Linked DNA regions of Homo sapiens: region 2 is linked to region 1. Evidence: fine-mapped expression QTL. A gene starts in region 1. The other region holds a variant in brackets. All regions are shown on one strand. Distances are between the middles of the regions.

The links. PIP is the estimated chance that this variant, and not a neighbour inherited with it, causes the effect.
Region 2: its variant is fine-mapped to the expression of COMMD1 in whole blood (INTERVAL, PIP above 0.99).

What each region holds. Positions count from the first base shown.
Region 1 is chr2:61,902,274-61,907,626 of GRCh38, reverse strand. It overlaps COMMD1 (copper metabolism domain containing 1), which reads right to left and starts at 1,953. Exons shown (of 3, transcript NM_152516.4): 1 at 1,769-1,953. The coding sequence starts at 1,948. RefSeq lists an enhancer at 1,702-1,891.
Region 2 is chr2:61,802,868-61,808,246 of GRCh38, reverse strand. It overlaps a transcript of FAM161A not described here and the pseudogene RPS24P7. Among named protein-coding and RNA genes, the nearest start is that of FAM161A, 49 kb to the left of the region's middle. The variant T/G (reference allele first, on the strand shown) is at 2,596.

The sequences.
Region 1 (5,353 bases):
AATCAAAATGTCGTCCACCTAGAGAGGAGAAGTAGCCCCCAATGTTTGGAGATTCTAAAGCATTACCTACACATGTGCTGTTGTCTCTTCTTAGCCTGCAGAAGAGATATAGGCCTCATCCCCATAGGAGACCAAACACCTCAAAAACCCAGATGTCAAATTTTCTAGGAAACTCTCTTGGACTGCTCAAAGAGTAAAATTTGATAGAAATAGGAAGCATTTGGCCGGGCCGGGTGGCTCACGCCTGTAATCCTGGCACTCCGGGAGGCCGAGGCAGGCGGATAACGAAGTCAGGAGATCAAAACCATCCTGGCCAACATAGTGAAACCCAGTCTCTACTAAAAATACAAAAATTAGCTGGGTGTGGTGGCGCATGCCTGTAACCCCAGCTACTCGGGAGGCTGAGGCAGGAGAATGGCTCGAACCCCAGGAGGTGGAGATTGCAGTGAGCCGAGATCGGGCCACTGCACTCCAGCCTGGCAACAAAGCAAAACTCGTCTCAAAAAAAGAAAAAACAAAAGAAATAGAAAGCATTCACTAGTGATTTATGACTGATATCAACTAAGATTACTTAGAATGTCTAGGATCACACCTGAGATATTACTCCTTACATTTCCATGAGACAATCCATTTACTGTGTGAAATATTTGTTTTCATTTGCTTTTTTTCTGGATTCAAATCCTGTAGGCAAAATCAGTTTAAAAAAATACAGAAGTGCCTTTTAAAGAATAAACAGCTTTGAAAAAATAGCAAATTCAAAAGGATAGTGGATTAAATTTCAACACTGACTTTAATCAAAATGAATTTTAGGCTGTTTAGATTCCCTGGACCTGTTTCTTAAATCTTTACCATGGGTGTCCACTATATAAGGTTTTTTTTTCAAGAAACAAATGAAACAACATGTAAAACATCTCAGTACGTTCCTAACACATAGGAGACCTATAAAAGTCAGTAATTTTTTTACAGTTTGTCTCTAGAGTACATTGACACTACATTCCTATAACTAGTTCTCGGTCTAAATAGAGTTGTCCAATATGATGGTTATTAGCCATATGTGACTACTGAGCACTTAAATTTGGCAAGTCCGAGATATGTGCTTTAAGTGTAAAATACTGGATTTCGAAGATTTAGTGAAAAAAGTAACAAAAAATCTTGTCAATATTCTGTATATTGATTACATGTGAAGTGATAATACTTTGGCTATTCTGGATTAAATAAGATATATTACTAAAATATTAATTTCACCTTTTTGGCTCACATATTTCTATTGGACGATCTAGTCTATACTTTGACTTCAAGCTGGTAATTATGCTCTTTTAACCACGCAGTGGACTGCTTGACAGATGTCACTCGGGCTAAGCCACCCCTTATCCAGCAGACACTGGCTCATTTTAACGCTCCCAACTTCCACAACCGGGGAAAGCTAGCGACCTAAAACTCTTAATTTTAAAAACACCAGATCCCACAGATCTGCTGAGGAAACGCGACTGTTACCAAGAGACAGAAATGTCTTGAAGGAAAAACCCCTGTGGGTGTCAGTCTACCGGGGGACTGGGAACTTCAGCAGAAAAAGTCCCCCTTAGGAAAGAGAGAAGGGGCGACAGAACGAGCAAATCTGAAGGAGCCCGATGTGGAGCCCACGGAGTGGAGGTCTGAGAGGGAAAAGCCTTTCGGCTTGTGAGGACAGGGGAAGGCAAGGGGGGGAGAGTCTGAAGCCAGCGGCCAAGGGGTTCTGCTCCAAGCCGGAGACTACAGAAAAGAGCAGTACCTTAAGAATCCCCCTCATCTTTGCCAGAAAGGGGCGGAACTCCTCGGGTGGCACCTCTGGATATAGCTGGCTCCGTAGCAGCTCCTCTGTGATGCCGGGGTACCCGTGGAAAGTGTCCTGGGCCAGCGCATTCAGCAGCCCGCTCAGGGGTTTGCCACCCTCAAGCTCGCCCGCCGCCATGCTCTGCGAAGGCCCCGCCCCGCAACAGCTGAGCCGTGCCCCGCCACGGCGGCCGAGATGTGCCTAAATAGCCTGTGCAAAACCACCACGGGGAACCTCGGGGAACCTGGAGGCAAGGCTTCCCCAGGGGTCAGAGTTGGCAGCTTACAGCTTTGCTCTGCAACACCCATCCCCTTAGGATACCTCCACGGAAATATCCGTTTGGTTCCAGTAGGGTCACTTTGCTTCCCCTGATCCCCTTCATCACTGCAGAGCCTACTGGAAAGAAAGATTGCTCGCAGAGATTACTGGAGATGGGGTAGCAGCCTATAAGTTTGGCAGTTTAATTTTTAGATGGCTGTATCTCATTCCAGGACTTGCCAACCCATTAACTGAATAGGATCGATCACTCAGATTTAATCTCTGCCTAATCCTTACCTGTCATCCTTTTTTTCAGGAAGTTTAACTATCTCCTGATTACATAATGTTTTTCTTTGGGTTGTTAATTGCCTTTTTATATACACTTGTCTTTCCAGCTAGATCAGTGGCTCTGATCCAATGTTCTTTTATATGACAAATATTTTAACACCTTATTTACTATCCTGAAATGAAATGCATAGCTAATATAACTTCCCACCCATATAATTTTTTAAAATCAATATATTATTCAGCCATAAAATGGAATAAAGTACTGATACATGCTACAACGTGAATGAGACTTAAAAACAGGATTAGTAAAAGAAGCCAGATATAAAAGGCCAAATATTGGACATCCATTTATATGAAATGTCCAGGATAGACAAATCCATGGAGACTGAAAGTAATGTAATAGTTGGCAGAATCTGGAGAAGGGGACGAATGGGTAGTGACTGTTTATAGGTACAGAGTTTCTTTGGGGCATGATGAAAACATTCCGGAAGTGGAAGCACAACCTTGTTAATATACTAAAACCCACTGAATTGTACACTTTAAAAGATTAGTTTCACAGTATGTGAATATCTCAATTGAAAAATCAATTTAATGACCTAATTGTAATTTATCATAAAATGAAAAGGAATTTATAATATAATATGTGTGTTTGGGTACACCTATACTAGTTGACTAAAAGACATACAAAGTAGCCAGATGTCTGCATCTTTACATCTTTATGTAGAACCACCTGTGACTTCTACAAATGCAAATTGATACAGGTGTGTGGTATTGGTGACTCCAGAGGGAGGGCAGTTGCTTCTGGTAACATGATGTTCTGAAATGTTAAGAACTGATGTTCTGAAATGTGAACAACAGTTGGTAAAGTTTACAACAAAAAACACTCTTTCCTCACTCTACAGTCATTGCAAAGCTGGAATATTCTGTATATATTAATGCTAAACTAAAAATACATTGTGTTGCCGGGCACGGTGGCTCACGCCTCTAATCCCAGCACTTTGGAAGGCCGAGGCAGACGGATCACGAGGTCAGGAGATCAAGACCATCCTGGCTAACACGGTGAAACCCCATCTCTACTAAAAATACAAAAAAATTAGCCGGGCCTAGTGGCGGGCGCCTGTAGTCCCAGCTACTCGGGAGGCTGGGGCAGGAGAATGGCATGAACCTGGGAGGTGGAGCTTGCAGTGAGCCGAGATCACGCCACTGCACTCTGTCGCCTGGGTGAAAGAGGGAGACTCCGTCTCAAAAAAATAAAATAATAATAATAATACATTGTGTTTCTATATAAAATAGAGTTTGACTTTAGGCTTAGATAATAACAAACAGGTTTTTCACCTTTATGAACGTACCCTGCATGGGAAGATGTCTTATATATCTGACCTCTCTCCCACCTATTCCATTCCTACCCTTCCTTCAAAGTGACAACTGAGGTCGGGCATGGTGGCTCACGCCTGTAACCCCAGCACTTTGGGAGGCTGAGGTGGGTGGATCACCTGAGGTCAGGAGATCGAGACCAGCCTGGCCAACATGGTGAAACTGAAAATACAAAAATTAGCCAGGCATGGTAGCACATGTCTGTAGTCCCAGCTACTCGGGAGGCTGAGGCAGGAGAATTGCTTGAACTCAGGAAGCAGAGGCTGCAGTGAGCAGAGATGGTGCCACTGCACTCTAGCCTTGGGGACAAGAGCAAAACTTCATCTCAAAAAAAAAAAAAAGTGACAACTGAAATGCCCCTTTCAAGGCAGTGCCACATTGTTGAGAATCTACTCATCTAGACTACTTTAATTAATGTTTATCCAGTAAAGAGGTATTCTTTTTTTTTTTTTTGAGACAAAGTTTTACTCTGTTGCCCAGGCTGGAGTGCAGTGGCACAATCTCGGTTCACTGCAACATCCACCTCCCAAGTTCAAGTGATTCTCCTGCCTCAGCCTCCCAAGTAGCTGGGATTATAGGCATGCGCCACCACGCCCAGCTAATTTTTGTATTTTTTGTAGAGAAGGGGTTTCACCATGTTGGCCAGGCTGGTCTCAAACTCCTGACCTCAGGTGATCCACCCACCTCAGCCTCCCAAAGTGCTGGGATTACAGGTGTGAGCCACTGTACCTGGCCAGAGGCATTTTTTACAATAGAAAAAATATATTTCTTTTCCTAAAATAATTTTATAAAAGGCAAATTCAGAGTTGCTTCCATGGCTCCAAGTAAACCAAACTTAGTGACAAACTATAGATTGTTTTACATGTACTTACAGAAGTTGCAGAGAATGGTTGGTGAAAAAGAAAAAGCATAAATCAAAAGGTGGCAAGCAGAAAAAGCACTATTAAACACGTAATTTACAAATTACCCACCAGAAAGGCTGCACCTATTTCTATGAAACCTTAGTAACACTGACTGATATTATTCTTTTAATTTCATTTAATTTAATTTTTGAGACAGAGTCTCACTCTGTTGCCCAGGCTGGAGTGCAGTGGCACGATGTTGGCTCACTGCAGTCTCGACCTCCCAGGCCCAAGTTATCCTCCGATCTCAGGCTAAGTAGCTGGGAATATGAGCACACACTACCGTACCCAGCTATATTATTCTTTATAACCTTTGCCATATGATACATGAAAAATATTATCTCACTGTTTTAATTCGCATTTCTTAAATTTTGAGAGTAAATTTTTTTTACTATATTTATTGGCTGCTTATATTTCTTCCTATTTCCTTGTCCATTTTCTATAGGGGTTTCTGTCACTTCAGTGATTTCTTTTCTTTTTTTTTAAGGTGGAGTTTCGCTCTTGTCGCCCAGGCTGGATGGAGTGCAATGGCATGATCTCGGCTCACCACAACCTCCGCCTCCCGGGTTCAAACGATTCTCCTGCCTCAGGCTCCCAAGTAGCTGGGACTACAGGCGTGCGCCACCACACCTGGCTAATTTTTGTATTTTTAGTAGAGACAAGGTTTCACCATCTTGGGCACGCTGGTCTCGAACTCCCGACCTCGTGATCCACCTGCCTC
Region 2 (5,379 bases), 99 kb after region 1:
TAAGCAGTTACTATGAAACTTTAACTATATTTCCTGTTAATAACTGAAACCTCAAAATACTTCTTTTGAAAAGATAAGGCAATTTCCTATCTCTGCCCCCTCAGAGATTGGCAGACAGCAGGTGGCCATGTCACTGCCTCACGCCATCACTGAGCTCCCTGCCATCACCTCCCAAATAAATCCTTGTACCCAATCCTGGTCTCAGGGTCAGCTTTTGGGGGACCCCAGACCAGGACACTGTTCTCTGGAATACCCAAATGTCTAGCAGCACTGGGCCCACACTTTGTGTGGCAAAAAATGGAGTCTGGCTGGACACAGTGGCTCACATCTGGAATCCCAAAACTTTGGGAGGCCAAGGCAGGAGGTTTATTTGAGGCCTGGAGTTTGAGACCAGCCTGGACAACATAGTGAGACCATGTCTCTACCAAAAATACAAAAATTAGCCAGGTGTGGTGCTGTGTGCCTGTAGTCCCAGCTACTCAGGAGGCTGAGGTGGGAGGAATGCTTGAGCCCTGGAGGTGGAGGTTGCAGTGAGCCATGATTCACGCCACTGCACTCCAGCCTGGGTGACAGGGCAAGACCTTGTCTCAACAAAAAAAAAAAAAAAAAAAAATCTGGAGTCCAGAGGCAGCTAACCCTTTCAGGGTCCCAAAATAGGCTCTGCAAAGTCCCCCACTTTGCAGAGCCTATTTTGGGATTGGCCCAGCAAGCATCTGAGCTTGTAATCCTGCACATGTAAGATACAGGCAAGAAAATGTTCTTTTTTACATTTTCAAGTAGTGAGAGAAGAGACATACAACAAACAGACATATTTTTACAATTTCAAAAGCATAGCACAATCTACGCAATGCTTATAATGGAAAAAACTAAATAAATACTTAAACAAAAAATTCCCTTCCTAAGTGCCTTTTATTTTGTGATTTATTCTTTTTCTAGGTTTTTTTTTTTCTGCCTCTTTATTTGCTCAAGTTGGGATTTCCAGAGTTTCATTTCAAGAACTAACTTGCTTTGCTTCATTTCCGTTGTCTGGGCTTTTGTTACCTGATGAGTTTGAGTGCTTTCAGGACATCTGATGCTTCAACTTCAATTAGCAAGCCCTCCTGAAAGAAAGAACACACCTTTGTCTCTTCTAAGTTAATTCTACAACCTTGCAAAATTTGATTTCCACACAAGAATGTGAAAATCATCTTAGATAATTTAGGCAGCAATTTATCTGACAAATGTGAGCTCAATTCTTTCAAATAAAAAGATGTTGAGCTGGGTGTGGTGGCTCACGCCTGTAATCCCAGCACTTTGGGAGGCTGAGGCAGGTGGATCATGAGGTCAGGAGATCAAGACCATCATGACTAACACGGTGAAACCCCGTCTCTACTAAAAATAGAAAAAATTAGCTGGGCATGGTGGCAGGTGCCTGTAGTCCCAGCTACTCGGGAGGCTGAGGCAGGAGAATGGTGTGAACCCCGGAGGCGGAGCTTGCAGTGAGCCGAGATGGCGCCACTGCACTCCAGCCTGGGCGACAGAGCCAGACTCTGTCTCAAAAAAAAAAAAAAAAAAAAAAAAAAAAAAGACGTGGAAAGCAAAATTGCTTTCATGTGAAAAAATTAGAGCTTACATGTGATTTCAACTTTTTAATATCAATTACTCATTAAATCTTTCCCTAGGTTTATCTCTAAATAAGAAAGTTTCATCTGTGTGAAAACTAAAAACTGAGAATCAGTATTAAAATTTCATGACCATTAATGCTTTATCTGATTTTAAAACATGATTAATTTTCCCTTCTCTAGGTGTTTAAAATGAATATCTCACAATGACAACGACAGAATAATAGGGGGCAAGGGCAATCACTGCCACATCTGAAGGCGGTTCATTGTAAAGTAATGCCACACTCTTAACCTGGGACTAAAAAATAATGTGAGTTTTTAAACAGAACTTCAACATGCATGTTTTTAAGTAGCGATGGCGCCCTCAAAAGAATGGTTCTAACCATCCTTCCAGATTGCAATTTCTTTCTTTCTTTTTTTTTGAGACGGATCACGGATCTTGCTCTGTCGCCCAGGCTTGAGTGCAGTAGTGCAGTCTCGGCTCACTGCATCCTCCACCTCCTAGATTCAAGCGATTCTCCTGCCTCAGCCTCCTGAATAGCTGGAATTACAGGCATGTGCCACCACACCCGGCTAATTTTTGTATTTTTAGTAGTGATGGAGTTTTGCCATGTTGCCCAGACTGGTCTTGAATTCCTGAGCTAAAATGATCATCCTGCCTTGGCTTCCCAAAGTGCTGGATTTACAGGTGTTAGCCACCACATCTGGCTGAGAACAGGTTAATTTTTAAAAAGTAACATAAGTAATTTGATAACAAGCCTAGTGAATAAGATATGTAACCAAACTAATAGTATTGGCTTAGGAAAAAAAAAACCTAGCAATAAAAGAATGAGATTGGTGTTTTTGCATTGCCCAGAACCTGCCTCTGGGTAAGTCTGTTTTGGGCACTGCAACAGATCATTGGCAGTTGCAGCTCCATGAGGGCAGGGACCTGTGCCTGGTACAGGACTGAACTGGGGTCTGCACACCTGGCTCGGTAAAGCCAAACATTCAC[T/G]CTGCAGTTTGCAATAGGAGGAAGAACGGTATTTATCTTTGCAGGGCACCAAGCAAGAAGAATCAGGCACCTCATACTTAAGACCTGACCTCCCCAATGGCTTGCAAGTAAGGGTTTTTATATTTATTTAGTTTTTGAGATGGAGTCTTGGTCTGCTGCCCAGGCTGGAGTGCAGTGGCATGATCTTGGCTCACTGCAATCTCCGTCTCCCAGGTTCAAGCAATTCTCCTTCCTCAGCCTCCCGAGTAGCTGGGATTACAGGCTCCCGCCACCAAGCCCGGCTAAATTTTGTATTTTTAGTAGACACGGGGTTTTGCCATGTTGGCCAGGCTCGTCTCGAACTCCTGACCTCAGGTGATACATCCACCTTGGCAAGAGTTTTTAAAGGCAGAGGCAGAGGTTACAGGCAAAGTCATAAATCAATACATGGAGGCTATATGCTGGTTTGACCTAAAAAGGCGGGACATCTCAAAGTGGGTGGTGGGGCATGGGGCAGGTTACAGGTCAGAGATTCAAAGATTTTCTGATTTGCAATTGGTTAAGATGGAAAAGGTTTGTCTAAAAATTTGGGGTCAGGAGAAAAGAATGTTATCTCTGGCTCATGGGCGTGACTTCCTCCAGGCCCCCCAGAAAGAACTTCAGAAAAAAAAAATGGCAGTCAGAGTTGAGTCCTCAGTTCCCCCTAACCTGAGGTCTAGGTGCCAGTGGATTCATTTGCTGGGCATCCATGTTTCTGAAAAACAACTCAGGGATCTGTTAGGAGGTTATCTTTAGTTTCTCTCGCTCCCTCCCTCCCTCCCTTCTTCCTTGCTTCCTTCTTTCTTTCTCTTTCTCTTTCTTTCTTTCTTTCTTTCTTTCTTTCTTTCTTTCTTTCTTTCTTTCTCTTTCTTTTTCTTTCTTTCTTTTCCTTTCTTTCTTTCCTTCTTTCTTTCTTTCTCTTTCTCTCTCTCTCTCTTTCTTCTCTCTTTCAGCAGAGTCTCACTCTTTCGCCCAGGCTGGAGTGCAGTGTTGCAATGTTGGCTCACTGCAATCTCCACCTCCCAGGTTCAGACAATTCTCCTGCCTCAGCCTCCCATGTAGTTGGGATTACAGGTGCACACCAGCACGCTCGGCTAAATTTTGTATTTTTAGTAGAGACGGGGTTTCACCGTGTTGACCAGGCTGGTCTCAAACTCCTGACCTCAGGTGATCCACCCACCGTGACCTCCCAACATGCTGGTGTCAGAGGGGTGTGAAACCAGAGCAACTCCATCTTGAAAAGGAGCTGGGAGAAATTAGGCTGAGACCTACTGGGCTGTATTCCCAGACGGTTAAGGCATTCTCTAAGTCACAGGATGAGATACAAGGTCAGCACAAGATACACAGGTCATAAAGACCTTGCTGATAAAACAGGTTGCAGTAAAGAAGTCGGCTAAAACCCACCAAAACCAAGATGGCCACGAGAGTAACCTCTGGCCGTCCTCACTGCTACACTCCCACCAGTGCCATGACAGTTTACAAATGCCATGGCAACGTCAGGAAGTTACCCTATATGGTCTAAAATGGGGAGGCATGAATAATCCACCCCTTGTTTAGAATATTATCAAGAAATAACCATTAAAATGGGCAACCAGCAGCCGTTGGAGCTCCTCTGTCTATGGAGTAGCCGTTCTTTTATTCCTTTACTTTCCTAATAAACTTGCTTTTGCTTTGCACTGTAGACTTGCCCTGAATTCTTTCTTGGGCAAGATCTAAGAACACTCTCTTGGGGTCTGGATGGGAACCCCTTTCCTGTAACATTGAGATTACAGGCATGAGCCACCACGCCCAGCCTCTTTTTATTTATTTATTTATTTTTTCGAGACAGAGTCTTTCTCTGTGCCCAGGCTGGAGTACAATGGTGCGATCTCAGCTCACTGCAACCTCCATGTCCCGAGTTCACACCATTCTCCTGCCTCAGCTTCCTGAGAAGTTGGAATTACAGGCAAGTGTCACCATGCCCAGCTAATTTTTATATTTTTAGTAGAGGTGGGGTTTCACCATGTTGGCCAGGCTGATCTTGAACTCCTGACCTTGTGATCCACCTGCCTTGGCCTCCCAAAGTGCTGGGATTACAGGCGTAAGCCACTGCGCCCGGCCTTATTAATCTTATTGTGAAAAATCCTCAATGGCCGCAGATAACATCCTTGCAATATCTTTACTCCTTCGGCTTTTTGCCAGCACCAACACTGGCCTTTGCAGTACCCCTGACTTTCTCCATTCTGTTCTTGCATTCCTTTTGTTGCTTTCTTGAGGTCTTTTTCTTCTCATACAGGCCATGTCTTGCAAGTCTATGTTTGGTATGTTTGGGTTCATTTTACTTTACATAATCCAAGGAATCATAAATCATGCCAAAGCCACCACCAGCATGAGTTCTGAATGCAAATACAAAGATGACATCCAGTGTGGTCTTATACATTTTGGCTAGTTTTTTCTGAATTTCTGTCTTAGGCACTGTTGCCTTCCCGGGATGAAGGACATCAATGAGCATCTGTTTCCTCTGAAGTAGTCATGAACTTTCTAGTTAGGATAGTTACTGTGTCCTATCCTATGTGTTAGGATAGTTCATGATGGTGGCCTACCCTCAGACAGCCAGGGAGGAGAAGAGTTATCTTTAGTTTCTATAGAGAACAAAACATCCCAGAATTCGAACTTTCTTGGCTATTGTTTTAAGCTACTATTACCTTCTTGCTAATCAAGTTGCTGGTTTACTTCTCAGGGCTAACTAGGTGCCTGGAATTTCCCCTGCAATAACTAAAACTTTTC